Homo sapiens: one gene and its partners. The protein of the gene in region 1 interacts with the protein of each later gene in a pairwise test. Each region holds a gene or a part of one and is shown in the gene's direction. Other genes may lie near its edges.

The links.
Region 2: the proteins of TRIML2 (region 1) and KRT27 interact in binary tests that used the Homo sapiens proteins (3 or more experiments, as listed by UniProt).
Region 3: the proteins of TRIML2 (region 1) and XAF1 interact in binary tests that used the Homo sapiens proteins (3 or more experiments, as listed by UniProt).
Region 4: the proteins of TRIML2 (region 1) and CTBP2 interact in binary tests that used the Homo sapiens proteins (3 or more experiments, as listed by UniProt).
Region 5: the proteins of TRIML2 (region 1) and POU6F2 interact in binary tests that used the Homo sapiens proteins (3 or more experiments, as listed by UniProt).
Region 6: the proteins of TRIML2 (region 1) and CCNH interact in binary tests that used the Homo sapiens proteins (3 or more experiments, as listed by UniProt).
Region 7: the proteins of TRIML2 (region 1) and NFKBID interact in binary tests that used the Homo sapiens proteins (3 or more experiments, as listed by UniProt).

What each region holds. Positions count from the first base shown.
Region 1 is NC_000004.12:188,092,102-188,096,356, reverse strand, and holds part of TRIML2 (probable E3 ubiquitin-protein ligase TRIML2), read left to right. Parts: intron 1-3,334; coding exon of another isoform or gene 3,335-3,375; exon of another isoform or gene 3,376-3,567; intron 3,568-4,255.
Region 2 is NC_000017.11:40,775,553-40,779,550, reverse strand, and holds the end of KRT27 (keratin, type I cytoskeletal 27), read left to right. Parts: coding exon 1-49; intron 50-1,818; coding exon 1,819-2,036; intron 2,037-2,248; coding exon 2,249-2,298; intron 2,299-2,412; coding exon 2,413-2,552; 3' UTR 2,553-2,743; downstream 2,744-3,998.
Region 3 is NC_000017.11:6,768,992-6,773,246, forward strand, and holds part of XAF1 (XIAP-associated factor 1), read left to right. Parts: intron 1-1,651; coding exon 1,652-1,993; coding exon of another isoform or gene 1,994-2,050; exon of another isoform or gene 2,051-3,358; intron 3,359-4,121; coding exon 4,122-4,178; 3' UTR 4,179-4,255. UniProt on the Homo sapiens protein: Seems to function as a negative regulator of members of the IAP (inhibitor of apoptosis protein) family. Inhibits anti-caspase activity of BIRC4. Induces cleavage and inactivation of BIRC4 independent of caspase activation.
Region 4 is NC_000010.11:124,995,990-125,000,244, reverse strand, and holds part of CTBP2 (C-terminal-binding protein 2), read left to right. Parts: exon of another isoform or gene 1-393; intron 394-2,074; coding exon 2,075-2,281; intron 2,282-4,255. UniProt on the Homo sapiens protein: Corepressor targeting diverse transcription regulators. Functions in brown adipose tissue (BAT) differentiation. Isoform 2 probably acts as a scaffold for specialized synapses.
Region 5 is NC_000007.14:39,466,505-39,469,856, forward strand, and holds the end of POU6F2 (POU domain, class 6, transcription factor 2), read left to right. Parts: 3' UTR 1-2,097; downstream 2,098-3,352. UniProt on the Homo sapiens protein: Probable transcription factor likely to be involved in early steps in the differentiation of amacrine and ganglion cells. Recognizes and binds to the DNA sequence 5'-ATGCAAAT-3'. Isoform 1 does not bind DNA.
Region 6 is NC_000005.10:87,402,736-87,406,990, reverse strand, and holds part of CCNH (cyclin-H), read left to right. Parts: intron 1-1,983; coding exon 1,984-2,147; intron 2,148-4,255. UniProt on the Homo sapiens protein: Regulates CDK7, the catalytic subunit of the CDK-activating kinase (CAK) enzymatic complex. CAK activates the cyclin-associated kinases CDK1, CDK2, CDK4 and CDK6 by threonine phosphorylation.
Region 7 is NC_000019.10:35,890,504-35,894,758, reverse strand, and holds part of NFKBID (NF-kappa-B inhibitor delta), read left to right. Parts: intron 1-1,591; coding exon of another isoform or gene 1,592-1,699; exon of another isoform or gene 1,700-2,056; intron 2,057-4,255. UniProt on the Homo sapiens protein: Regulates the expression of IL-2, IL-6, and other cytokines through regulation on NF-kappa-B activity. Functions in the regulation of inflammatory responses.

The sequences.
Region 1 (4,255 bases):
TACCATGTTGGTCAGGATGGTCTTGAACTCCTGATCTCAGGTGATCCACGCGCCTTGGGCTCCCAAAGTGCTGGGATTATAGGCGTGAGCCACCACGCCTGGCTAATTTTTTGTATTTATGGTAGAGACGAGGTCTTACCATGTTGGTCAGGCTGGTCTTGAACTCCTGATCTCAGGTGATCCACGCGCCTCAGGCTCCCAAAGTGCTGGGATTACAGGCGTGAGCCACCACGCCTGGCTGCAGATTCTTTACCAGTTCCCCAGCCATGAAACATGATTGCAGGCAGATTCCACTGCTTAAAAATTTAAAACTTCTGGGGAAGAAATTCAGCATGTATAACAAAGGGTTTATATCTCCTGTCCTTATAGCTTTGCCTTTCCCAGAATGTCCTATCGATGGAATCCTACAGTGTGTGGCCTTTCGAGGCTGACAGCATACTGCAGTTGACATATAGAACGTCCAGGCTGCTTCGTGTATCAGTAGTTTGTTCCTTTTTATTGTTGATAATATTCCATTGTATAAATATACCATAATTTACTTATCCTTTTGCAATTCTACGGACATGGGTTGTTTCCAGCTCTGTGCTGTAAATATTAGCAGCAGATTTTTGTGTGGGCACAGCTTCATAGTTCTTGATTGACTGTCTAAGGGTGGGATTGCCAAACTTGTTTTCCAAATTGCCTGTGCCATTTTGCCTTCCCACCAATAACGTGCGAAAGATTCAGTTACTCTGTATTCTCACCAGGGTTTGGTATTGTCAGTTTGTTTTACTACATCCGACCCGATAGATGGGTAGTGGTATGTCATTTTAATTTGCATTTCCAGAATGACTAATGATGCTGAGCATATTTTCATGTGTTTGTTTTCCCTCTATCTCAACTTTGGTGAAATACATGTACAAACCCCTTTTCTAAATTGGGTTGTATGTCTCTTGAGTTTTATAATTTCTTTATATGTTCTGTTTAGCATTCATTTATCAGATAAATTTTGCAAATATTTCCTCCCAGCATGGTTTGTATTCTCATTTTCCTAATACTGTCTTTTGAAGTGTAGAGGTTTTGCATTTTGATGAAGTTCAATTTATCAAGTTTTTTCTTTTATGACTTCTGCTTTTTGTGTCTTATTTAAGAAATTTTGCCAAAGCCAACAAAGATTTCCTTCCAAAAGTTTTATGGTTTTCGGTTTTACATTGTGGCCTATGAACCACTGAGAGTTAATATCTGTATACAGTTCACAGAATGGTGCAAACCCTCTCCTCCCCCCACCTTCTATTTTTATTTTTTGACTCACATGTATCCATTTGTTCCAGTTTCATTTGTTAAAAACACTACCTTTGTCCATTCAATTTACTTGGCCCCTTTGTTGAAAATCAACTGGTATATGCGATCACGTCTATTTGTGACTCTAATAGGTCTATTGATGGTTGACTCTTTCCCTTTGCCAATAGCACACTGGCTTGATTGATAACTCTGTAGGAAGTCTTGAAAGCAGGTACTGTGCATTCTCCAAATTTATTCTTTTTCAGAATAGTTTTGGCTACTGTAGGTTGTTTGCTTTTCCACATAAATTTTGAAATCAGCTTGTTGGCTTCTTCAAAATGGACCGCTGGGATTTTTATTCATATTACATTGAATCCGTTGATCAGTTTGGGGAGAATTGACATCTTGACAATATTTGGTGCTTTCAGTCCAGGAATACAAAATATCTCCATTTATTTAGGTCTTCGATTTCTCTCATCAGTGTTTTGTCACTTTCAGCATAAAATGTTATATGTATTTGGAGATGTATCCCTAAGTATTTTATGTTTTTTACAGCCACTGTAAACGGTATTTTAAAATATCAATTTCTAATTGACATTTCATTCATTTCTAGTTCATTGCAAGTATATAGAAATGGAATTGTTTTATATATATTGACATTTGTACCCTATAACTATGCAAAACTCACTCATTAGACAGTGGATTTCTATAAATAGATCCTTCAGGATTTTCTACAAAGTCATGCAGTATATGAGTATAGATAGCTTTATTTCTGCCTTTCCAGTCTGTAAGCCTTTTCTGAATTTTTCTTGCCTTATTATACTGGCTCAGACCTGCAGTGTGTTGAACAGAAGTGGTGAGAGTGGACACTTGCTTATTCTCGATCTTAGGAAGAAAGAAAACATTAAGTCTTTTCACTCTAAATTCTGATACAGCTATAGCGCTTTTTGTTGTTGTTTTGTGTTTTTTGTTTTTGTTTTTGTTTTTGTTTTTGTTTTTGTTTTTTGAGATGCTGTCTGGCTCTGTCACCCAGGCTGGAGTGCAATGGCGAAGCCTCAGCTCACCGCAACCTCCTCCTCCCAGATTCAAACGATTCTCCTGCCTCAACCTCCCGAGTAGCTGAGTGCCACCACACTCAGCTAATTTTTGTATTTTTAGTAGATACGGGGTTTCACTCTGTTGGTCAGGCTGGTCTCGAACTCCCAACCTCGTGATCTGCCTGCCTCAGGTTCCCAAAGTGCTGGGATTAAAGGCGTGAGCCACCGCACCTGGCCCTAGCTATAGTTTTTTTTAATGGCTGCCTTTCATCAAATTGAGGATGTCCCCCTTTATTTCTGGTTTACTAAGAATTTTTATGAATCAATGTTGAATTTATCAAGTTCTTTTTCTCTTGAGATACTCCTGTTGTTTCTTCAACCTTTTTTGTTTTTGTTTTTGAGATGAGCCTCGCTCTGTTGCTCAGGCTGGAGGGCAGTGGCATGATCTCGGCTCACTGCAACCTCTGCCTCCCAGATGCAAGCGATGCTCCTGCCTCACCCTCCTGAGTAGCTGGGATTACAGGCCGCCACCAGGCCTGGCTGATTTTTGTAATTTTAGTAGAGATGGGGTTTCGCCAGGCTGGTCTCAAAGTCCTGGCCTCAAGTGATCCGTCCTCCTCGGCCTCCTAAAATGCTGGGATTACAAGCGTGAGCCACCGTGCCCAGCCACAGCTGTGCGTTTTTCCAGAGATAATTTGCATTTGTTTCTGCCAGTCTCCTGGAAATACTGAGAGTCTCAGACAATTTTTTAAAAATTCAAGACGTGTAGCTGTTGAGACCACCCTAATAATGTGAATTGGGCTTCAAATTCAGAGATTTAAGTTCATTAAATTTACTTCAGTCAAATAATAGAAATTAAGCTGGATTCCACATTACAGAAAGTAGGAAATAAAGGCCTTCCAGGTTTATGGCTTAGACAACTGAAGCAATGAGGGAGCTGTGAACTGAGAAGTAGAGACTGCAGAGGGCTGGCGTTGAAGTTCCATTTTGGGTGTGTTATGTTTGAAATTCCTGTGTTTTTTCCAACTGGTATTTAGCTGTTTATGGAGCGAGTCACAAACACAGAGAAGATGTTTAAAACTGAAGCTATGCACAGTTACCTGGGGGCAGTGAAGGAGAATATACTACTTGAAAGAAGAAGTCCCAGGACCAAGCCCTGAAAGATCACAATAGTTAGAGGCTGGGCAGAAAGAGATGAGAGGAACAGTCAGAGATAGGAAGAAGACGTATTCATGCAGGTGTGAGGAATTCATTGAGCCTGCGTGTTCTCAGCGTGAGTTTCTGGAGGGTCCACACAGGTGTTCCATCCTCCGCTGATAAATTATCTGATGTAATGCCTGATGTCCAGGGCCTGTTGTCAGCAATTTCCAGGCCTCTATGTCACCCTGTGGGGATATTTAAGATGTGTAGAGTACGGCATCGGGAGGGCCACGAATGAGTTGCTGCTGGCCGACTCCTGTGGCCGCTCCAGGCTTGGAGATCTAGAAGACCAGGGTTGGGCCCCAAGTGATATCTGGATGGAACTTGGCACCAGGACAGTTTGACCGTCTCTGGGGTGAAGCTGTTTTTTGTTTGTTTGTTTGTTTGTTTGTTTGTTTTGAGATGGAGTCTTGCTCTGTCGCCCAGGCTGGAGTGCAGTGGTGTGATCTCGGCTCACTGCAATCTCCGCCTCCTGGGTTCAAGCAATTTTCTGCCTCAGCCTCATGAGTAGCTGGGATTACAGGCGCCTGCCACCACACTCGGCTACTTTTTGTATTTTTTTAGTAGAGATGGGGTTTCACCATCTTGACCAGGCTGGTCTTGAACTCCTGACCTCGTGAGCCACCGCGCCACGTTGGATGAAGGTGTTTCTAAACCTTCCTTAGCTCATTCATCTTTGTTTTATTCTTCCCGCTCAGGTAGACTGTGTCCCTTTCCATATCTTATGGACTTTTTCCTCCATGAGGTCCATATTGAAG
Region 2 (3,998 bases), on another chromosome or scaffold:
ACGCACTCTTCAAACCCTTGAGATTGAACTTCAGTCCCTCTTAGCAACGGTAAGCGAAAAGTTACAAAACAGATTTGCTTTAGAAATTGAGAAAAAAATAATCGAAGAGAATTTTCTTCCAACATAATTACATATTTTAGTTTTTAACCATTAATTACAGTGCTTGACATAAGACATATTTGCATTTTGCACATGACAATCCTCTTTGCCTACAAAGTATAGCTGGATGCCAATAATTATGAAATATTAGAAATTAGCAAATACAGTCAAGATACTGGAAAAAGAAAATCGTTTTGACTTTGAATCTTCTATCATAAGTCAAAATATCAAAAACCACTCATATGTGGAGGCTAAAAAAGTTGATCTCAGAAGTAGAGAGTGGGATAAGTGCTTACTAGAGCCTGGGAAGGGGATGGGGGGATAGGAAGAGGTTGGTTAAAGGATACAAAATTACAGAGAAATAGGGAGAATCAGTTCAAGTGTTCTATAGTACTGTAGAATGACTACAGTTAAGAATAATTTATTCTATAATTTCTAATAGTTCAAGGAGAGGATTTTGAATGTTCCCAACACACACAAAAAAGATAAATGTTTGGGACCATGGATATGCTAACTGCCCTGATTCTATCACTACACATTGTGTGTTTTGAAATATAATTATGGAACCCCATAAATATATACAATTCTTATGTGTCCATTTAAAAAAAAAGAAAAAAAATCCTACTGCTTAAAGAGAGCAAAAATACATTTGCACCACTCCTAGCTTCATCTAGCATTCCTTTTGGCCACTCAATTAAGAGCACTTACAAGTTCCTTTGTAAGTGGCATAGACAGAGGAAAAGTCGAGGCATGAAGGCTGACTATAAAACTAAACATGTGTAATGATAATCATAACTGCTTTCATTAAGGGTTTGCCCAGCACTTCCGCCCACATGTGAGTCCACAACAACCCCGGGGCATGGGCAGGGCAGACGTTATAACTCATGTCATTATTTCCAAAAGAGGACTCTGAGATTCGAAGAAGTTAAGCAATTCCCACAGTCCCACAGTTGGGTATGAAGGAATCCAGAAGTTCTCTCCAAATTTTCTAACTCCCAAGTCTATACTTTTCCCACTATGGCTAGTAAACCACCAGAGTTTATCCACAGATGAGGCTATGAATGTATATAAAATCAAGACTTTATATAAAAAATACTTGCAGGTGAAAGGATAAGACACTCTCATCTTCATTCCATGTAAAATTGCAGTGAGTGTTCCCTCTGAGTATATCTGTAAACCCATTCAGATTCACAAGCCAATGAATTGAACTACTGTATTTAAAGTCTAAGAAGGTAATTATTTTCTGTGGTTTATTCTACTCATGGAACGTTTATGCGGTTTACTGCAGGATGACTTTTTAATAGAAGAGCTACAATCCTCATAAGACAAGACTGTCACATGGCTAGAAATGAGTAGCAAAGTATAGGCGGACTTCTAGTTGTGGGTAAAGTAGCAAATTGTGCCACACTCTACAAGCACAGGCTATATTGGTGCAGGGGAGGGATCTTTCAGTCTGTGCCCTATGAAGAGACAATTTCATCTTTTTTAGCACACCTGGGCATCTGAGGGACATTCAGCACCAGCTGTGTCATTCTCAAATAGAAAAGTAGTAGGACATTTAATAAAGGCAACAATTAATATTGAAGAAGTGGAATCTTTTGGGTAAATATAATTATTTGCATGATGTAAGGATAATTCTCTTAATTATCTCTTAAATGCTTTGGCTTATTCTAAAACACCGTGACCTTTTCTATTAAACCATGTCTTACCAAACTACAGAAACACTCCCTGGAGTGCTCCTTGACAGAGACCGAGAGTAACTACTGTGCACAGCTGGCACAGATCCAGGCTCAGATCGGGGCCCTGGAGGAGCAGCTGCACCAGGTCAGAACCGAGACCGAGGGCCAGAAGCTCGAGTATGAGCAGCTCCTTGACATCAAGGTCCACCTGGAAAAAGAAATTGAGACCTACTGCCTCCTGATAGATGGAGAAGATGGGTCAGTATTGCCGCCATTGAGAAAACAATTCATTTTTAAGGTTACTAAAGATGATTTGAAATCAAGTACAAAATATCTATGATCTAGATCACGCATAGATAATACTCTTTTAGTGTTATTTCAGAATGCAGTGAATTCCCACCTTAAATCATTATTTTTCAGTTTCCTCAGTAAAACAGAATAATTAATATAAGCGCTCTATACTTTTACAGCTCCTGTTCTAAATCAAAAGGCTATGGAGGCCCAGGAAATCAAACAAAAGGTAAACAAAAGCTGTGTTAGGCATTCAGTGTTTATTTGTATGTGTTTCAAATGATGTTTTATTTCCTATTTATGAATTTGATAAATTCTAAACAGTTTATATGTGGCATTTTAGATTCATCTAAAACCACCATTGTCAAAACAGTTGTTGAAGAGATAGATCCTCGTGGCAAAGTTCTCTCATCCAGAGTTCACACTGTGGAAGAGAAATCCACCAAAGTCAACAACAAGAATGAACAGAGGGTGTCTTCCTGAACTCCAGCCTCTGAGACAGAATGGCCCCCAAATTAAAATACCAAAATGAAGCTAGTTTCCTAAATAAGGGTCCCCTTATTTTTCTGCTTTTCTTCCAATGAATTAAGACAAGTTATTTTTAGAATAGTACCATTTCTTTGGCTTTTTCTCTATGGTGGTGTTTCAATAAAAGTTCTTCCTGTTGCAAGTCATCTTCCCTGGTTCTGGCCAATCTTTGCATTTTAGATATACCCTCCCAAATGGAAGCTGAATTTTGTCTTTAATTTCTTCTGTTTAATTCAACAGTCTTCACAAGTTGGAAGTAAGTTTAATGTGAAAACTAGTTGGAGTCTTTTTGACTTCTCTGTAAAATTTTGTCTCCTTTGTCTCAGTACGAAAAGTACTTACTGAGAACACGCTATGTGCCAGATAACGAGGATAAAACAGTTAATAAGATCCAGTCCCTGAAGTCAATATGCTCATAGATGTAGAAATAAGAACCTGAAGAATCAGAAACAAACTTAAACATAAAGGAAAGGCTATAAGTAGTGATATTTGAAGGTAGAAGGGGAAAAAGAGAGCTGTGAGGACAAGGGTAAGAGGAGAATTCCAGCAGGCATCTAATTCATAATCTTGATCACTCCACCATAACGGTAGGAATTCACAAGTTCTCTCCTTCGTTTTTGCCATCCAAGACTGCAGAGCCATGTGGCTCTCAAGTCAAAGGTAACTTTTAGTGCAATAATTTCAGCACCTACCATTAATGAATCTATTTCAAGGCTGGGAGTGGGAGGAGGTTAAACTCAGCAGAAAACCCTCCAGAGGTTTATTTGTGGGTGAGAGATTTGGCTCCCCCTCACCAATCCCGTAACAGAAACAGCCTGTTTTTCTCTGGAACCAGTGTCCTATTACTGAACTCTGTAGAATTGGCTCAGCACAGTTGAAACACAGTCACTTTCAAGCTGTCTTTCCTCCTCTTTTTCCCACACGCATGTAATAATACCTAAGCGAATGTAAGGCAGATACCCTCTCACTTAACTTTTTAATTAACCAGTCCTCACATCATATACCCTCATATCAAAATTAGGAAAAGGAAACATCCTACCACGTAAGAGTTGAAAAGTTACATTCACGCAAAAACCTGTGCACAGATGTTTATAACAGCTTTATTCGTAATTGCCAAAACTTGGAAGCAACCAAGATGTCCTCTTGGTTGACGAATGGATAAATAACTGTGGTACCTCTAGACAACAAAATATTATTTAGTGCTAAAAAGCTATGAGCTATCAAGCCATGAAAAGACACAGAGGAACCTTAAATGTATATTACTAAGTGAAAGAAGCCAATCTGAAAAGGCTACATACTGTATGACCCCAACTATATGACATTCTGTACAAGGCGAAACTATGGAGATAGTAAAAAGATAATTGGCTGCCAGAAATTGGAGGTGAGGGATGCACAGGCAGA
Region 3 (4,255 bases), on another chromosome or scaffold:
AACATAACACATGTATATTAAGCATTCTCATTCTAGCTTCATGACTCTCTTTTTTTTCATGACTCTCCTTTTTTTTCATTTCTCTCTTTTAATCGCCTTATGTCTCTTAACCTTTCATATTTTCTCTATTTCTATCTCTTATATTCTGGGTAATTTCCTGAAATTATCTCCAAGTTCATTCATTCTTTCTTGGCCAAATCTAATTTTCTGTTTTTAGCCCATCCATTTAGGTTCAATACCTGCATTTTTCATGTCTAGAAGTTCAATTTATCTTTCTTTCAAATTTGCCTATTTTTGTTCTCACTACAAAAAAAAGATAGGTATGTGAAGTGATTGATATGTTAATTAACTTGATTTAATCATCCCACAATGTATATATATATTAAAATATCACATTGTACCCCATAAATATATAAAGTTATTATTTGTTAATTACAAATTAGAAAATTTCAAATTTACCTGTTCTGTTTTTCATGAGATGTTATTCTTTTCCCAGATTTAATCATTTTTAATTAATTTATTTTACAGTCTCTATCCTATAGTTGCATTACCTGAACTTCTTGGAGGCTAATCTGACTACTTTTGTGTCTGTGACTCTTACTCAAGGTGGATTGCTTCCTTGTGTGTTTGTAATTTTGGATTGTGAGTTTCTATCTGGTGGGACTCTACCTATGAGGATCCTCTATGACCTATTTTGAGGCTGTTGTCCCTCCAGAGGAATTTTGTGATTGCTTCTGCCAGACATCTCAATGTTTATGTTAATTCTTCTGCTCAGGGATTCCCAGACCATGAGGCCAAAGTAAATCCTAATCCCACACACAGGAATGGCATGGACCTGTGATTTTGAGTTTTCAGGGGCATAAGTTTTCATCTCCACACTCAAATACCGACCCAAGAAAGAAAAGCTTCCTTGCCACTTTCCTTTTCTCATTAGCTGATACTTTTCCTCTTACCCACCATAATTTATCCTTTAAAGTTTCCAGCTTTATGCAGGATCAATAGAGTCTTACTTCCAAATCCCCACCTGTGTGGATGGGACTTTCCTGTCATCCAAGCCCCTAGTTACAAAGTTGACCCTACATCTCCCATAAGCAGTGTCAACTCCTGTGCTTAACCAGTCCATTTGTGCTGCTATAACAGGATGCCACAGACAGAGTAATAATAAAGAACACAAATTTATTTCGAACAGTTCTGAAGACTGGGAAGTTCAAGATCAAGGCACCACCATTTGGTGTCTGGTGAGGGCCTTCTTGCTGCCTCCTAGCATGGTAGAAAGCAAAAGAGTAGAAGGCTGTAGCCAAATACTTCATGAATCCTCTTTTATAAGGACCCTAATCTCATTAAAAAGGGAGGACCTTTCATGATCTAATCACCCCCGAAGGCCCCACCTCTTAATACCATCACATTGGCAGCACCTGAATTTTGGAGGAGACACATTCAAACCATAGCAACCAGTCAGACCTTCATTCCTGGAATGCAAAATTTTCTTTCTTTCCTGCAAAGCCAGCTATTAAATTGAATGTCTGTCACATTTTATACACCATATAAAAGTGTTTACAGTGGGAATTTCTTGTGTTATCTAGTCTACTGTATTTTCTGACCATTAAAGCTGAAGTCATTTTAAAATTTGATATATTATTCACAATTGCAGGGTAAATGTTGTCCAGACTCAGAGTTTAAGAAACACTTTCCTGTTGGAAATCCAGAAATTCTTCCTTCATCTCTTCCAAGTCAAGCTGCTGAAAATCAAACTTCCACGATGGAGAAAGATGTTCGTCCAAAGACAAGAAGTATAAACAGATTTCCTCTTCATTCTGAAAGTTCATCAAAGAAAGCACCAAGAAGCAAAAACAAAACCTTGGATCCACTTTTGATGTCAGAGCCCAAGCCCAGGACCAGCTCCCCTAGAGGAGATAAAGCAGCCTATGACATTCTGAGGAGATGTTCTCAGTGTGGCATCCTGCTTCCCCTGCCGATCCTAAATCAACATCAGGTACTCAGCCTCTGTTCTCTGCTTACCTTTCTGGGAACCATCCGCACAGTGTCTTAAAAAAATCCAAGACCTGAAAGATGTTCACAAATGTTGTGGCTGAAAAGGCCGTTTTCTCTGACTCCCACTTCTCTGGGTGCCCAAATGCACTATCTCGTAGCACTTACCACCTGGTTTATTTGCATCACCTCCGAGAGACTGAGTCACCTTTGACTCAAGCCAGGTCTTTGAAGGTAGAGCCAGGTCCCTCTTCTCTGTGTCTCCAGCTTCTAGGCCAGGGATTGATTTGGAGCAACTGCTTCAAAACTGTTGAGTAAATGAATGAATCAGAGGATACCCAGTCTATCTCTCTCATGGTGTAGATATGGCACTGAGGCCCAGAGATGAGATGTCTTGGTCAAGATCCTAAGCCAGTTGGTGGTGGCTTACCTCCAGCAGATCAAGGTTTGCTTCAAGAAGATCAGGGTTTGTAGGCATCTCCCTGAATATCATGATTTTTATGTCCTAGGTTATTTTCTAGTAATAATAATAACTGGCATTAGAGGTTGTTAACCATTGTGTGCCAGTTACAATACAGAGCTCTTTATAATCTTCATCATAAACAATAGGCATGCATTTTATCTCCATTTTACAGATAAGGTGAAGTAGCTTTCCAAGGAGTATACAATTAGAAGGTGGCAGGATCCAGCCTGAGTCCACATGTATATAGCTCCAAAGTTTATGCTCTTAAGCTCCAGATTAAATGCCTTACTTAAAAAATTTATTTTTTTTCAAAATACATAAGTACTAGATTTTGTTGGAGCTAGTTGATATAATATCATATAAAGAAGTATAAAAGCAAAGCTAACCCTAATTCCCCAACCCCATACCCTGAGATACCACTTTGGACAGTCTTATGGGCATCTTTTCAAAGCTCTACCTTTGCATATACAAGCCTAAACAAGCATATACTGGGTTTTACTTGTTTCTTTTTCCACACATATTATCTTACTATACTTTTTACTCTGCCACATGCCTTTTTCACTTAGTATATGATGCATGCTTCTTACAAAAGACTTAGTATGCCAAAACCTTTTTTTCTAACTTCCTTGTGCATCTATGTATGCACATAAGCATATAATTTTACAAAAATGGGTTCATTTCATATTTGCTGGGGGTGTTACTAGTGCCATTTTTCCTTGCCTCCCACAATTTGGTATATTTCCTTTCACAGTTTTCTCCATCCTTATATAACAGAGTCGCCAGATTTAGCAAATAAAAATACAGGACATTCAGTCAAATTTGAATTTCAGAGAAACAAAGAATTGTTTTTAGTGTAGGTATATTCCATGCAATGATTGTTTTGCTAAAATTAAAATTTAACCAGGACACCCTGTATTTTATTTAGCAATTTCTTATATAACCACCATACAAACATACACATTTGGAGTCCTGTTATATACATTTTTTCACTTTTTTTTTTTTGAACCAGTAAAGCTGCCATCTTTTTTTTTTTTTTTTTTTTTTTGAGACAGAGTCTCGCTCTGTCACCCAGGCTGGAATGCAGTGGTGGGATCTCGGCTCACTGCGATCTCTGCCTCCCGGGTTCAAGCGATTCTCCTGCCTCAGCCTCCTGAGTAGCTGGGAGTACAGGCACCCGCCACCACACCCAGCTAATTTTTGCATTTTAGTACAGATGGGGTTTCACCATGTTGTCCATGCTGGTCTTGAAATCCTGACCTCAGGTGATCCACCCGCTTCAGACTCCCAAAGTGCTGGAATTATAGGGCATGAGCCACCACGCCCAGCAACATTTCTTTACATCCTAATGTAAATTCAGCAATACCCAAGGAAATCCCTACAAACAAAACAGTGTGGCTTATTTTTATTAATGGCTGCCTAAGATTCCATGGTGTGAGTGTTCTCCCATCTGTCCCTCCACCCAGTGATAGCAACAGGCCCCTGTTAAACTTTGTCGCAAGCCTCCTATACTTCTGGCTCAGTGGGCTCCTGACCTTTTCTATGCCATTACACTCCAGTCTTTGGGCAGGGCTCATGCTCTGTAACAAGGGACAGCAATATCCAGAGATATTCTAGGAGCTAGCACTTCTTACTTTAACCATATCAAACTTTTTTTATATCCATTTCTTAGGAGAAATGCCGGTGGTTAGCTTCATCAAAAGGAAAACAAGTGAGAAATTTCAGCTAGATTTGGAAAAGGAAAGGTACTACAAATTCAAAAGATTTCACTTTTAACACTGGCATTCCTGCCTACTTGCTGTGGTG
Region 4 (4,255 bases), on another chromosome or scaffold:
TCCTGGCAGTGGCGCCGCCGCGGTCTGGGTGGGAAGGTTCTGCCATCCCAGGCAGTGGCTGCAGCTCTTCCTCCTGCACCATCTCCCCGTCCTGGGACTCTGCACTCCGGTGAGCAGTGGAACCACGGAGCTGAATGTCCAAGTTCGGTGAGAAGACTGACCAGATGTCCTGCCTCAACCTGCCTTTTTGTGCCACCCACCCACCCGGGTGCCTTTACACACGTGGCCTTGTGGGGTCTCCCAGCCAGCATCAGCTCATCTCCTAGGAGGAGGTGCTGCTGTTGACGCCAGGCAGCACTGCCGAGCCAGCCCCGGCAGCAGCACGGAGCCAGCGTCCTTGAGGGTGATTCTGCTGCGGGGCCTCCCTGCTGGGCTTTAGCCTGCCCGAGGAATGAAAATTGTCCCAGCCGCCAAAGATTTTCTTGAACCTCTGGCATCAGCCTCAGTCTGTCTGACTTAATAATAACATGGCATGTGATCAAGCCCCAGCTTCTCTGCTGAGCTATTTCAAATGAATGAGGCCAGTTTCCTGCAAGATTCCTGGCATCCAGCTCGTGGGAAAGTTGGTCGGCCTCAGTCACCGTCAACCACACTGGTCCCTTGGCAGGGGTCGGTGGCCCAGAGGAGCCCTCAGTGGCCACGTTGGGTGGGTGGGTGACCTGCTCACAGTGGCTTCACCTTCTCTGAGCTGTGTGTCTTGCTAAGCGGGTCACTCTCAAGGCCCTAGACCTAGGGGTGGCCCTTGTGGGGAGACAGCCACGCAGCCATCTAGAAAGTGGGTTTGTGGCACCCACTGGTCTTGTTTCCTGTCCAGTAGAGCCGAAGAAGCTGCCTTGGTGATTGCCGTCCCCACCCCAATCTGTCCCCACCCCAATCTTCAGGACTTAAGATAGAGGAATCCTGGGCTGCCTTAAAGGTGGCCCTGTCCCAGTGCCTTGGGCACCCCTTGCTGGGAGAGACACTCTCCTAAGGGTCCCAAAGCTGGGATTAGGAGGGAACCATTTCACTTGGGCTGACGTGATGCCCAGATAGCCACACCCCTCCTCAGAGAGCTCAACTGGGAGCCACAGGCTGGCTGCTGAGCCCACCCTCTGGGGCCCCGCCCCTGGCTCGGCCCCTCTGGTCTCTGCTGCAAGCAGGCCTCTGGATCTCCACCTGTCGGGTGTAGGGAGGGGCCGTTCCCAGCCTGGCCCTCTGCCTACTTGCACCCCTGTTGTATCTGGCAGTCATTCATTCTTCCCCAGACACCCTCTGGCTGAGGAGGGTAAATGGCAGGGCCCTTTCTGCCTATGACTTGGGTTAACTCTCCATGCCACAGCTGCTTTGTGCTGGGAGATACTTGACCCTGGTCTCTGCAGCTCGTGTGGGGCCAGAGGGCTCACCCCAAGCCACCCTCGGCCCTGACCTGAAGGCTGCTCCACGGGGCAGGGAGGGCATCCTGTCTGCTCTGAGTTCTTCCCAGCAGAGCAGGGTGCTGAGCACATGACCACAGGGCGATTGTGCACACGCTTCGGCCATCGGTTCCGTTCCCGGGGCCAGCCCTTGCATCCGTGTGGGGGTGGAGGTGTTTTTTTAAAACCAGTATGTTTAAAACGTATGTTTTTTGCATCAAACTGTTAGCATAGCTTAAAACCAAAAGCCATTCTTTGTCACCCTGCCAGCTCCATGAGGGAGACCCTGAGGGGTTTGAGGCTGAGTGGGGTCCACTTGGAGGAGTCTGGTCTGAGGCCCACTGGCTTCCTGCCACTCCGGGTCCTTTCTTGGGACTCAGTGCAAGCCCAGGAGGAAGCCAGTCAGGCCCAAAATCAGCCATAGGAGTTGGGTTGGTCATGAGCCACGTCCTGGAGCAAAAGTCCTCCTTGGGAGGGAGGGGTAGATGTTGGGGCTAGAGCTTCCCATGCATCAGAGCCAGAGGGCCTACCGCCCACGTGCCCAGCCCCGCGTCTGCTAGACGATAAGGTGGGCCTCCCCCGGTGCCAACAACCGAGTCTCAGGAGGGCGGGCTGGGAGCCCTGGGGCTTCCCCACTGATCTTGAGGTTTTCTCATCTCCGGCCTTGGCCTCATCCCTTTCAGGAATTGCCGTGTGCAACATCCCGTCTGCAGCCGTGGAAGAGACAGCGGACTCTACCATCTGCCACATCCTCAACCTGTACCGGAGGAACACGTGGCTGTACCAGGCACTGCGGGAAGGCACGCGGGTTCAGAGCGTGGAGCAGATCCGCGAGGTGGCCTCGGGAGCGGCCCGCATCCGTGGGGAGACGCTGGGCCTCATTGGCTTTGGTACGTGCCACCCTCTGCGCTGACCCCCAACCCCTCCGACACTGGGGCTGGTGTAGTGGGGACCCCTCGGGAAAGGCAACCCCAGCCTGCTCTTGAGGAGCCAGGGCAGGCAGGGCCAGCACCCTCCCCGTGTTGCACGGGGTAGGAGATCGGAGTCAAGACCCATCAGGCAACTCACCCTAGAGGCAGGATCTGGGCTGGTTCTGGAAGAATGCGTGTCCACTGCTGTCTGTAGTGTCTGGCAGGACAGCATTCTTTGCTGTGGGGCAGCGGGCAAGGCGCTGTGCCCAGTAAATTTCCCTGGGCAGGGGTGAAGGGCAGGGGCTGTATGGAGGTGTGTCGTAAAGCAGCAGCCAGGCTTGGGGCTCGTGTAGGGGCTGGCGTAGGGTTCAGTGGAGACGCGGGTTATGGACATGGCCTCACTCCTGAAGGCCTTCAAATGCCAGGTTGGGGTGGCACAGTCAGGCCATCAGCTTGGAAAGCTCTCCTGAGAGAGGGGCAGGAAAAGGAGACGTGAGGAGAGGCCCAGGAGGGTCTTCAGCAGGGTGGTAGGGGCCGGTGCCACGGAGAAGGTGATGGTAAGCAGCCTGATTCCATGGGGGCTCGAGGAGGTCCCCACCCTGCTCACCATCAGGGTCCACACCACACCCAGGAGACCTCGGCCCATTGCCACTGAATCTCAACCCCACCGCTTACCAGCTCTGTGGCCTTGTGGGAATTACCTGAGCTTTTTGCCTCAATTTCCCAATCTGTAAGTAGATATTTGGTGGGATACGTGGTATCTGCCTTTTGGGACTCCAAGAAGGCGCATGTGCACACGGGGCCAGTAATGTTCTGGCCTCCGGGAGACTCCCAGCTGCTGCTCAGCCCTTGCTTGGAGCTCCGCGCCTCCGAGGACGAAGCCCCCGTGCTCCTCTCCCCACAAGCCCCGCTCTGGACCTGGGGTGCCACTTGAACAAGAGAGAAGTTGCTGGACGCTTCCAGGAGTGCACACCTTTCTGTCCCCGCTACAGGCTGTGATCTCCTGGGTCTGGCCTCGCCCGACGCCTGGAGTCTGAGTTGAAGTGTCGGGTGCTGGGGATCTTCTGAAAGGACCCACCGTGTTTTGACTTTGTTGGAAAACAGATGTGGTGTGTGAACACCAGGCTCCCTCTGTCCGGGCCCCACTGGGCCTCATGGCTCGGAGATGCAGCTTCATCTCCATCTCTGAAGCCCCTCCTGGGGCCTCGGTGGTCTCTGGCCAGGCTGCAGAGCCTGGGGGTGGTCATGAGCACCCTGGGTACACGGTGGGGCCTCACTGGGGAGGTGCTTGTTTCAGGGGCTTCTGACTCCAGCCGTCACGGGACTTCTTCCTGGGGTCGTTCCTGTAGCTGTGCCCTTGTCATTCAACTTTAAAAACCCTCTCGGTGTATAGAGGTCAGTGCAGCCCCCTGCCGCCGCCCTGTTTTCTCGAGACTGTACACTAACCCCTGCCGCCACCACCCTGGATCCTCAGCACAGGGACTGTCGTGCTCTCCTTGTTCCCTTTCCAGGTGTCTCTGTAGCCTTCAGGACTGTCGCTGCTGCAGCCATCCTGGGCTAAGAGCTTTTGCTGGCCTCGGGTTCTACTGAGCAAGAGTCCCCCAGGCCCAGCGGGCTCAGTGCAGCAGGCGGGGTGGGACGGTGCCGCCAAGAGAGGGCAGCCTGGGGCTGGGGGCATGGACAGAAACTGAAGGAAAGGCAGCCTGTGGGAGCTGCGCTTTTAAAATAAGCGGCATGGGGGGCCGGGGGGGGCGCTGTGACGGGGGAGCAGGTCTCTTCTGTAGGGACTGGGTTTTGATTAAGTCAGTAGCAGGATTAAGTCATTGGGTCATCAGAAAATCTCATGGATAAAGTTCAAGGGGTTTGTGAACTTTAAAAAAAAAAAAAAAAAAAACAAAGAAATAGCCGTCGGCACGGTTCAAATCTGGGCTTGGTGCTCTGGGCTGCTTTTCC
Region 5 (3,352 bases), on another chromosome or scaffold:
CTAATGTATTATCTAGAAGTAAGTTGTGAAAGAAAAAAGAGAAACCCAATCTCAAGTTGCCCAACTGATTAGAAATGCCATCTCCTTCCCCTAATACACTCCCTCTCCCTGGGGAGTTTGAGTTTCTTCTGTTGGCTCCTTTGCTGTTTGTGTAAATGCTACAGTATAATTGTCCCCTCCAATGATTCATGCAGCAATCAAGAGACTACCAGCAAGGAAACTCTAAAAGGAATCCTGGAAGTGGAACAAGTCACTCGTAAAGGTGTTTCCATTTTACCAGTCAATGCTAACTGGACCACAGCTAACTTGATCTTCAATGCCAACATCACAGAGCCCCTTTCGCCACCTCAAAAACTGCACAAACATGGACAACCCAGAAACCCAAAACTTTATTGATTAAAACAGATTTTGGATTCTCCTAGGACCTGCTCCAAATTCCATCAAGAAAAGCTCCCTGCGAAGAGAAGTTAACAAGATAACATATGATGGATGCTAAATATTTAAATATATGCCGGCAGCGGTTACATAAGGCCTGCTCAGTTCTGAGATCTATAATTGGGAGGGTCTAACTAGGACAGGGAAAATATAAAATAAAAGTAATCTTCCAGAGTGGAACAAAAAAGAAATATATTCATCCGACAGTCGTAACACCATTCATGTGCAGTGATTTTTTTATAGTTTTATAATTTTGTATTGTTTTATAAATTATTTATAAGGTGTTGTAATGCTTCTTATATTAATTTTTTACAGATAAATTTTTTGCTACAAGGCATAAAAAGGTGCCTGAACCGATTCTTAGGAATATAAATTATACTGTGTAACTCATAAGTCTTTGGGACCACACCTAATGCTTAATTTTATGATGACATTTCTCATGTCTACTTGTAAACAACTTCATATGCCAATGGCGTTTAAGTGTCTTTTATGTTTCCATGAACTGAAGGTTAAGGTTGCCACCCACAAAAAATAAAAGCCACTTTGGGCATATGTGATTGTATTTCAAGCTTCAGTATTTTTCTCACATAATTTTTAATTATTGTTATCTGCATTTTCATTACTTCATGAAAAAATGACAGTGGATATTACATTTTACACTTGTTTATAGATTTTCTTTCTTTTTCAACCAAGAAAATATTTTGAACAATTGAAACTTTTAATTGCATTTGCAAGGTTTTGGCTTCTTTATGTTGTCATCACACAGATGCACACACACATACACATACAACACAAAAGAGAGAACAAAAAAGCAAAAGGAGCTAGGAAAAAAACAAAACAAAACAAGTAGAGGTGTATCAAAGAACTCAAGCTATAACCAAAAAGAAATCGTAAAATGCCTTTGCTCGTTTCTCTACGCTGGACCAAAGCTCAATATTTGTAGGTATATGCACATTGTATAGATATGGCTAAATGTTGCTGACAATCTCGCAATACTAAACTGTTCCTATTTTAAGAAAAAAAAAAGAAATACAAACTGTTCATCAATGTTTTACCTCAGCACTCTACTTGTACCCAGTTAATGACCAAGCTTAAAAAAAAATTGAGATAAAGGAAATTGATTTTCATTTCAATGTTTGACTGTAAAATCTGTTTGGATAACATTTTGTAATGAGCTTTTTGTCATGTGATTTGCTTGTCTTCAACTTGAAATTATGTGAGGCACATTTGTTTATTTGTTGTTAAGAAAGTGATTTTTTTTTTTTTTTGTCCTATGTGCTGTGATCTAGACTGGTCACCGGGGTCACTTATGAGGCACCACAAAGAGATCTGCTTCTCCGTGCCCGGAGCAGGCAGCAGGAGGGAGGGCAGGAAACAGGACTGGGTTGCTTTGGAAAAATCATCATGACAAGAAGTTGACATGATAGACTTGTGACCAAGAAGCCAAACTGAATATTTAAAAGCTCCTTACTTGCTCTGACATTGAAACCAAAGCTGATTTTATCTGCACAGGTTGCTTAATATTTAAAAAAAAAAAAAACTGTACTTAATCTAGAGCAATATCTGTATGGTCAGTAAAGCTGCACTTTGTGTATTTCTTAACAGCTTCAGATCTGTCACTTTTAATTTGTACCATAAAAAATAAATAATTGTTTGACATGAGCTTCTAGGCTAAGTGTGTCTCACACTCAGATATGTCATTTAAGTTGTCAGCATTTTAAAAACTGTACATTAAAACCCCAAATGTTAAGGAAAGGAAGGGGTTCAAGACAGATTGGTTAATATCATGATTATTTTAACTTTTCAAATGACATATTGTATTCATTGGGACTCTTTTGGTTGCAAGTTATAGGAATTCAACTGAAACTTGCCTACACATAAAGGTACTGTGTTGTTTGACTTAATGGGAAGTTCCGTTGTGGACCTGAAGCACAGCTGGATTCAGTGGTTTCAAAGATGTCATCAGCCTGTCCTGCTTGGCTTCCTTCTCAGATGGATTCTCTAACCATTGACTCTAAGGCTTTGAATCATTGCGCCCTTCTCTAAACTAAGCACTGGTGCTGCGGGGTGATGCACATAAATTCATGGTCACAGGCTCATTCCTGTCTGTGGGGGGAGGGTGGGGCCTCACTCTGACGACCCTGTGGGACCACAAGGATTGAAAGAGGAGTACACATAAGAACCGGAAGACAAAAAAATAGAGCCATGGTAATGAGCAGACAAAACCCAGAGCCACCACATTCTACGACTAACACCCAGCTGTGTGCCAGGTGTCGTAGAGAGTTCTGTTGGTGAAGAGTGATCTGCTAGTCTAAGTAATGTCTGTAATGGCATGTTCTGGAAAATTGGACATTTGGCATATGTTCCTGCTTGAAGTTTAGTGTGGGTAGGAGGGGAGAGTGAATGTTGTTATATAATTCACTAATTCAGAAAATAGGATCATCTTGCTAAAATACCAGTAAAAAAAATTTAGAGTCATAATCGCCATACTTTCAGTGACCTTTAGCAAACATTTTTTATGCTACATGGAAATCTGTGTATCAACTTCATACTGTGATTGATAAGAAGTGCTTTGGAGTGAGCAACAAAACCAAAAATCCAAATGACCATGCATTATAAATGAGCCATGAAGGGGCCAGGGAGCTCCAAGCCTGACTTTAAAAGGGGCAAAAGAAAAAAAAATGCTGATACTTCTGCCTTGAAGGGTGGGGAAAAAACAAAAAATAAAGTCATTTTCAATGGCTTTCTTTCCATATTTAATATTCTACAAATATTATTGGCAAAGGTCCTGCCTATGATTATGCCTATTATGAAATATGTTTGACCTAGGAAACTCTAAAATGTCTTCTTTAAAAAGGACAGACATCATTTACATTTAATCATTCCATATTCCACAAATATCTGCTAAGCATTTAAT
Region 6 (4,255 bases), on another chromosome or scaffold:
AGACAATGTTACAGATTTTGAATACAGCAAAGAGAAGCTAGTGAAAGGTTTAAATTTAGAGAGTGGCATGATTAGATTTGCAGCTTTAAAAGATCATGTTGGCAACCTTATGGATCAGGTATTTATCGCGCATCTGTATGTGTCAGGCATAACGTGGAGAATGGATTAGAATAGATTAAGTCAATAACAGGGTACCGTTAAAGGAGTCCAAGCAAAAGATAGTGCTGGGCTTCACTCGTATGAAGGTTGTGGATACAGAAAGAGCTTCCTGGGCTTCAGAGATACAGGATGAGTATCCCTTATCTAAAAAATTTGGGACTAAAAGTACTTGGGATTACACTTTTTTTTTTTTTGATTTTGCAATATTTGCATTGTGCTTACTGGTTGAGCATCCCAAATCCAAAATCTGAAATGCTCCAATGAGAATTTCCTGAGTGTCATGTCAGTGCTCAGAAACTTTCAGATTTTGGAGCATTTCGGATTTTGAATTTTTTGGATTTGTGATGCTTAGCCTGTAGTTAGGTAGAATCAATAGAACATGAGGATTGATTGCATATAGAGATGAAGACAGAGGAAGAACCCCCAGGTTTCTGACTGGGTGAGAGTTTTTTTGTTGTTGTGTTTTGTTTTATGGAAGAGACTGATGCACATTTAAATACTGAGGCAAAGAGCTAGTAGTGAGAGCAAGATGAAATACAAAATAGTCTCTTTGGAGTAAGATGGAAGGGGGTTGGCATGGGATTTGGAAGCAAGGTATAAGAACTGGCCTTAGAGGGAATAATAGCTCTTTCTCTTAACAGTGGAAAAGGGGAAATCATGGGTTAGGATACTGTTATGCCTCAGGATTTGGTGTTGACAGGAAATAGCGCCTTTCTTTGGTAAGAGATAGTTTTCTGAGAGTGATGGAGTTTCTGAGAATTATCAAAGACATTAAGACAGATGGAAAATATTTATGCAGTCACTGAAAAATAGGAGAGTCAATTGTCTGTGGAAATACTATGGTTGCTTGGCAGTGTTTAAGAGCCTTGCTGAGGTCAATGAACATGAGTTTATAGTAACATTACCAGACTTCTGCTTGTATGGTTTTCTCTGGCAGCCCTCAGAAATCTTGGTATAGTTGCAAAGCGAAAGTTTGTTGGATTCAACCACTGTTCAGTTTCTGGTTTTGCCAGAAATTTGTTGGCAGCATATTGGGGCAGGGAATTCAGGAGAGAAATGAGGACCAGAGGACACTGGTGAGTGGGAGCAAGTAGAGGGATAAGTGAGCAAAGGTTCAGAGGAGGGAGAACAGCTGTGAAGTAAATGAGTAAATATATTAGAAAGGGAGGCATTGTGGTCAGAGTAGTGGGTCTGAATTTGTCATATCACAGGTGAGGCATTTTTGCATAATTGACTCTGAATATTTTGTTTCAGAGTGTAGAAAAGCTTTCTTAGTGCTTTAGGTGTTGCATATGGATATCTGAGGACTTAGGATTTATAGTTTATTTTATAGGGTATGAAGAACTGTCAGGAAATAGGAGGTCTTCCACATCTCTTGGGCATACTCTAAAACTTTTTCTGTGGGAATTCGAAGTCTAGTGTGTTCTAATCAAATCGAGATTCATTTTTATTTACTTCTTCCTGAAAGCAAATTTTAAATAGAAGGAATTTCATATAAAAATAAGGTGTATTCCTACATGTGGCCTTACATTTGAATCACCTGGGTTGCCTGAGAGAAGCATTTACCTGGGAATATGTATTTCTTGGCCCTACTTTAGACTCAATGGAATCTCTAAGAGCTTCCCTTCCCTCCCCTTCCTACTCAGGTGGAAAAGGACCAAGAGAAGGGATTAATGTAAATTGAGGACAGTGTCAATTACTGTGCTAGGAACTTTAGATATGTTATAGCATATATTTCTTAATAGGAGTTGTGTAATTTTTAAACTGTTGTTATACTCCATTTAAACCCTCAGAAATGGTAACATTTGCAAACTTTCTTTGTAGACCCGCTATCCCATATTGGAGAATCCAGAGATTTTGAGGAAAACAGCTGATGACTTTCTTAATAGAATTGCATTGACGGATGCTTACCTTTTATACACACCTTCCCAAATTGCCCTGACTGCCATTTTATCTAGTGCCTCCAGGGCTGGAATTACTATGGAAAGGTATTAATTAGTTTTTTAACTTAGGTCAAATTCAGTCACTGGGTTTATTTATTCATAGAATCATTTCTGACTGTAATCTTTAATATTCTTTGTGGCTGGGATGGTTGGTGAGAAGAAGAAATGAAATTGCCTTTTGAGGAAATCTTTAAACATCATGAAAAATACTGTTAAACTAAGAGGATACATTTAGGATTAAAGTAGAAGTAAACCAGGTGATCCTTGAAAGACTGATATAGCTATCAGTATATGACAAATTTAGAAGTTCCTGTGAACTGGTGAGCAACTTGAGTGCAGCAAATGTCTGCCTTGTTTTATCTTTATTCCCCTTCTGTAGAGCATGTATGACACGCGGAAGTTAAATATTGTTAACTAACTGAAGCACAAGCTAGCAGCCAATTAGACATTTTTAGTTTCTATATTAAGTTTCTCAATTTATGACCTTTGAGGTTCTGCTTGATTTCATTCCTAGAAATAGCTGAGGAAGAAAGATGATAAAACTTCCTAAAGTTAATTAAAACTATTTTACATGATTATAATCCCTTATCCATAATTTCAGAATCCATTGATAAGGTGGCAGCAAATAGAGCAGATTGTATTTAGTTTTTATTTCACTTAATAGGAATATTTGTGTTCCCTTGCAGAAATCTTAATATTCCTGATTACAGACATCACTTGGGTATTTCACATTTCATAATATATACACCAGATAACTTTTCTAAGACATGAATACTTATTAATAAGAATTTCGCAACACATCTGCATCTAGGATAAGGGATTGTAGGTTTATATTTTATTTATGATATGCCTGTTCTCTGCAAACGCAGCTCACCAACTGTATATAAATGTATACGTTTAATCCCAAAGTGATTTATATCTCCACTTATTTACTAAGCAAACATTTATTAGATACCTTCTATGTACTACTATGCACTGTACTACACTTTAGGAGTATGAATAAGATAAATCTCTGTGTTAGGAAAGATAGTCATGTAAATTACTGATGTATATGGAGTTAAGATGTGGACTTCCATTAATTTTGTGGGGGTTGGGTGGTTATTTTTTTTGAGACAGCATCTCACTCTCACCCAGGCTGGAATGCAGTGGCACAGTCAAAGCTCATTGCAGCCTCAACCTCCCAGCCTCAAGCGATCCTCCTACTTCAGCTTGCTGAGTAGCTGGAACCACAGGCACACACCGCCACACCTTGGCTAATCTTTTTGTTTTTTTTGTAGAGTTGGGGTTTCCCTATGCTGCCTAGGCTCATCTCAGTCACTCCTAGACTCGAGTAGTCTCCTGCCTAGGCCTCCCAAAGTGCTGGGGTGACAGGTGCACACCACCATACCTGGCCTGCAGACTTCATTCTGTAAGGGAACAAAAGTCCTCTTTTCCACAATTCAAATAACCAAAAGTTTGATTAATCTTGAAGCATTGTATATAGTGCATCTATAAATTCTTCAGTGAAGGTCCAAATGAATTTATTTCATCTTAGAAGTTTAGTTCATTATAATTCCAGGAAGGCAAAATTGAAATTGCCATACCTTTGGCTCCTTGCAAATTTAATAGGCTTTCGTAACATTCCCAGAGACTAGACATTGGGCCTTTTTTTTTTTTTTTTCCTTTAGGGAAATGCTTTCCAAACGTTTTTAACTTACAGCTGATTTACAGGCAAATTTTTGGGATATGTGGAAATGAGCTTTACATTTATTGCTGATTTCAAAAGGGAAAGCCCCTGTGCTGTTGTCATAGTCTGGATAATGCCTCAGATTATTAATCATAGGATTATTACCGTTATTTCTGGATTTTCTTCTCTTTCTTGCAGATTTAGAGCTTTATTTTTCATCTGCTACTTTAGGTATTCTTATTGCCTGTGGATTTTATTAAAACACCACAATATTATAAGTTCAAATTCAAAATTGAGGTTAAGAGTTGCTAACTTCACAGAGATAATGAGTCTAGTCAGCCAACTCTTAGCACCAAACCTATGACCCTTATGCTTAAGAAATCAAAAGGAAATGAAGAGTAAAAATAAAGGAAGATGACAAAAATGGGAGGAATTTTAGGTAGGAGAGGGAAAGGAAAAAACTAGTTATTTTGAATTACTGGTAGCC
Region 7 (4,255 bases), on another chromosome or scaffold:
GCTTCCCAAAATGCTGGGATTGCAAGCGTGAGCCACTGCACCTGGCCTCAAAAATCTCTTTGAGACAGGGTCTCACTCTGTCACTCAGGCTGGAGTGCAGTGGCATGATCACAGCTTATTGCAGCCTTGACCTTGTGCACTTAAGTGATCCTCCCACCTCAGCCTCCCAAGTAGCTGTGATCACAGGCATGCACCACCATGCGTGGCAACTTTTTTGTAAGGTGGGGTCTAACTATGTTGGCCAGGTTGGTCTCAAACTCCTGAGCTCAAGCAATCCTTCCACCTCTGCCTCTGAAAGTGCTGGGATTACAGTTGTGAGCCACTGCACCCAGCCTGAAAAATCTTATAGCTTGTGACTGTCAGAGAGAGAATTAGAACCCAGGTAGTCTGACTTTAGAACCTAGCTTTTAATTATGTTCTGTTCCTTTCCTGTGACAGTAGCTCCTTCATAGGCTGGCTGAGAGAATTAAACATCCACAAAAAATGTTTATTTATTTATTGAGATGGAATCTCACTCTGTCACCCAGGCTGGAGTGCAGTGGCATGATCTCGGCTTACTGCAACCTCTGCCTCCCGGGTTCAAGCCATGCTCCTGCCTCAGCCTCCTGAGTAACTGGGACTACAGGCATGCACCACCACGCTTGGCTAATTTTTTTGTATTTTTAATGGAGACGGGGTTTCCCTATGTTGGCCAGGCTGTTCTCTCAAACTCCTGACCTCAGGTGAGCCGCCCGCCTTGGCCTCCCAAAGTGCTGGGATTACAGGCATAAGCCACTGCGCCCAGCCGAAAAATGTTTTTTTAGTTAAAGAATGTTGAACACCAATAAAATATAGAAAATAGTGGAATGAACTCCATATGTCCAACATCAATAACCAGCCACTCATGGCCAGTCCTGCCCCATCCACTCTCTCACTTTCAAGTGATTTTTTTTTTTTTTTTGAGATGGCTCTCGCTCTGTCACCCAGGCTGGAGTGCAGTGGTGCGATCTCGGCTCACTGTAAGCTCCGCCTCCCGGGTTCACACCATTCTCCTGCCTCAGCCTCCTGAGTAGCTGGGACTATAGGCACCCGCCACCACGCCCGGCTAAATTTTTGCATTTTTAGTAGAGACGCAGTTTCACCGTGTTAGCCAGGATGGTCTCGATCTCCTGACCTCGTGATCCACCCGCCTCGGCCTCCCAAAGTGCTGGGATTACAGGCGTGAGCCACTGTGCGTGGCCTCTCACTTTCATGTGATTTTTAAGCAAATTCCAACATGTATTTTTTTCAAAAATATTTGTGTATCTTTAAAGAATAATGGTGTTTAGCAGAATTAGCTAGATGGTGGGGATGGACTGTAAGAAGGACGGGCATGACTGAGTAGAGACAAGATAAGGCATTATTAGCGGGGTTAGGAAATGAATGATGGTAATCTAGGCTCTTAATGGTTGCAAAGTAGAGCTAAGTGATCATTTGGGCAATACAGAGAAGGTGAAATTGATACTTTGGTAATTCATTCGTTTCTTCACTCAGAATTTTGGACACATATGATGTAGCTACCAGTGTGCTAGTGATGGGGCATAAAGTTGCTTTTTGTTTGTTTGTTTTTTAGAGACAGAGTCTGGCTTTGTCACCCAGGCTGGAGTGCTGTGGTGCGATCACGAATCACTGCAGCCTCGACTTCCTGACCTCAAACATTCCTTCCACCTCAGCCTCCTAAGTAGCTGGGACTACAGGCATGAGCCACCTCACCCGGCTAATTGTTTTATATTTTTTGTAGAGAGGGGGGGTCTCACTATGTTGCCCAGGCTGGTCTCGAACTCCTGGGCCCAAGTGATCCCCCAGCCTTGGCCTCCCAAGTGCTGGGATTACAGGCGTGAGCTGCTGTGCCCAGCTACCTATAATGTTTTAATAAGAAAAGACCACTTTCTTGTACTTTTAGACATTAAAATTTAATGGAAAAGAGAGGAGATGATAAGTAAACAAAGAACTGAACATAATTACAAATTGGGATGAGAGCTGCCTTGGGAATGTAGAAGGAGCTCTTAGACAATAAAAAGATTGGCTTTATATTGGATGCGGGGCTCACAATGAAGGTCATTCTGAGGAAATTACATTTAAGTTGAGCAAGAAATGATGAAGAGGAAGAATTAACTGTGTGGTAGGGTTCTGGGAGAACTCAGAAATCAGGGAGTATTTCTCTGAAAAAAGGACAAATAATTTTTTTTTTTTTTTTGAGATGGAGTCTCGCTCTGTCGCCCAGGTTGGAGTGCAGTGGCACAGTCTTGGTTCACTGCAACCTCCCAGGTTCAAGTGATTCTCCTGCCTCAGCCTCCCGAGTAGCTGGGACTATAGGCATGTGCTATCACACCCCACTAATTTTTGTATTTTTAGTAATAATAATAAGTTTTTTAAAAATAAGAAAGATGGCTGGGTGCGGTGGCTCATGCCTGTAATCCAAGCACTTTGGGAGGCTCAGGTGGGCGGACTGCTCGAGCTCAGGAATTCGAGACCAACCTGGGCAACATAGGGAGACCCCATCTCTAAAAAAAATACAAAAATTAGCTGGGCTTGATGGCACATGCCTGTGGTCCCAGGTACTCAGGAGGCTGAGGTGGGAGGATCACCTGAACCTGGGGAGGTCAAGGCTGCAGTGAGCCATGATTTTGCCACCACACTCCAGCCTGGGTGACAGAGCAAGACCCTGTCTCTCAACAACAACAACAACAATAATAAAAGATAAGAACTCTTTCCCTGTAATCCCAGTGCTTGGGGAGGCTAAGGTGGGAGGATCACTCGAGCCCAGTAGGTTGAGGCTACAGTGAGCCTTGGTCACACCACTGCACTCCAGCCTGGGCAACAGAGCGAGACCCTGTCTCAAAAAACAAACAAAAAACATAGCTTTTTTTTTTTGAGACGGAGTCTCACTCTGTTGCCCAGGCTGGATTGCAATGGTGTGATTTTGGCTCACTGCAACCTCTGCCTCCCGGGTTCAAGCTATTCCTGTGTCTCAGCCTCCCAAGTAGCTGGGATTATAGGCATGTGCCACCACGCCTGGCTAATTTTTGTATTTTTAGTAGAGACGGTTTCACCATGTTGGCCAGGCTGGTCTCGAACTCTTGACCTCAAGTGATCCGCCCTCCTTGGCCTCCCAAAGTGCTGGGATTACAGGCATGAGCCCCTGTGCCCTTCGAAAAAAAAGAACTTTTTAAACCTCAGTATCATTGCTCTGTCTTTAAAAAATTAAAGATTTTCTTGTAATACCAAATATCCTGGCTGTATTCAAATTTCCTTTTGGCTGTAAAATGATAATTTTTTTCATTAAAAAAAATCAAGATCCAAATAAGCACACATATTATGATGTTACGTCTTTTCAAATCACTCTTAATCTAGAGCTTTGGTTTTGTCTTCATCATTTTTTGGACGAGCAAACTAGGTGGTTTTGCCCTGTTATCAGCACATAAAATGTTTAACATTCATTATCGTTACAAACTCCTTAAAGACACATAAAAAGGTTTCATTTTAGAAAATGTCTTTTATTTTCCCCCAAATATGATGGGAACAGCTCAATATTGTGGTGCAGTATTGCAATATTAGCTAGTCCACTGATTAATGCTGCCAACTCCTGTGCTTGTAGATAAAGTACAGTCTGTGTGGGTCGGGATGCAATTTAATGTGTTGAATGGAGGGCAGGTAGCCAAGGCAGTTGCTTTGAAGAACTGGAAAAGGAGTCTCTTTCTCAGACACTGGTGGGAAAATTGTCATGAGAAATGTACAGTTCTGGAAGGTGTATGGTGTGAATGGTACACCCTGAGACGTGGTGTTGTGCGGTGCACAAGACATACAACTGAATAAGGCACTCTTGGTGGGGCTCGCAGAAGAGGGCCAGCATCTTATTTATTTATTTATTAATTTTGAGATAGAGTGTCACTCTGTCACCCATGCTGGAGTGCAGTGGTGTGGTCATGGCCCACTGCAGCCGTGAACTCCTAGGCTCAAATGAACCTCCTGCCTCAGCCTCCCAAGCAGCTGGGACTACAGGTGCGCACCACCACGCCTGGCTAATTTTTCTATTTTTTGTAGAGATGAGGTCTTGCTGTGTTGTCCAGGCTGGTCTGCAGCTCCTGGCCTCAAGTGATCCTCCTTCTTCAGCTTCCCAAAGTGCTAGGATTACAGGCGTGAACCACCGCACTCCGCCAAGGGTCAGGGTCTTTAAAGACTCCTGGATTCTGTGGGAGGGCACCTAGGTGTGAGGCTGGCCCTGACCTCTGCCATT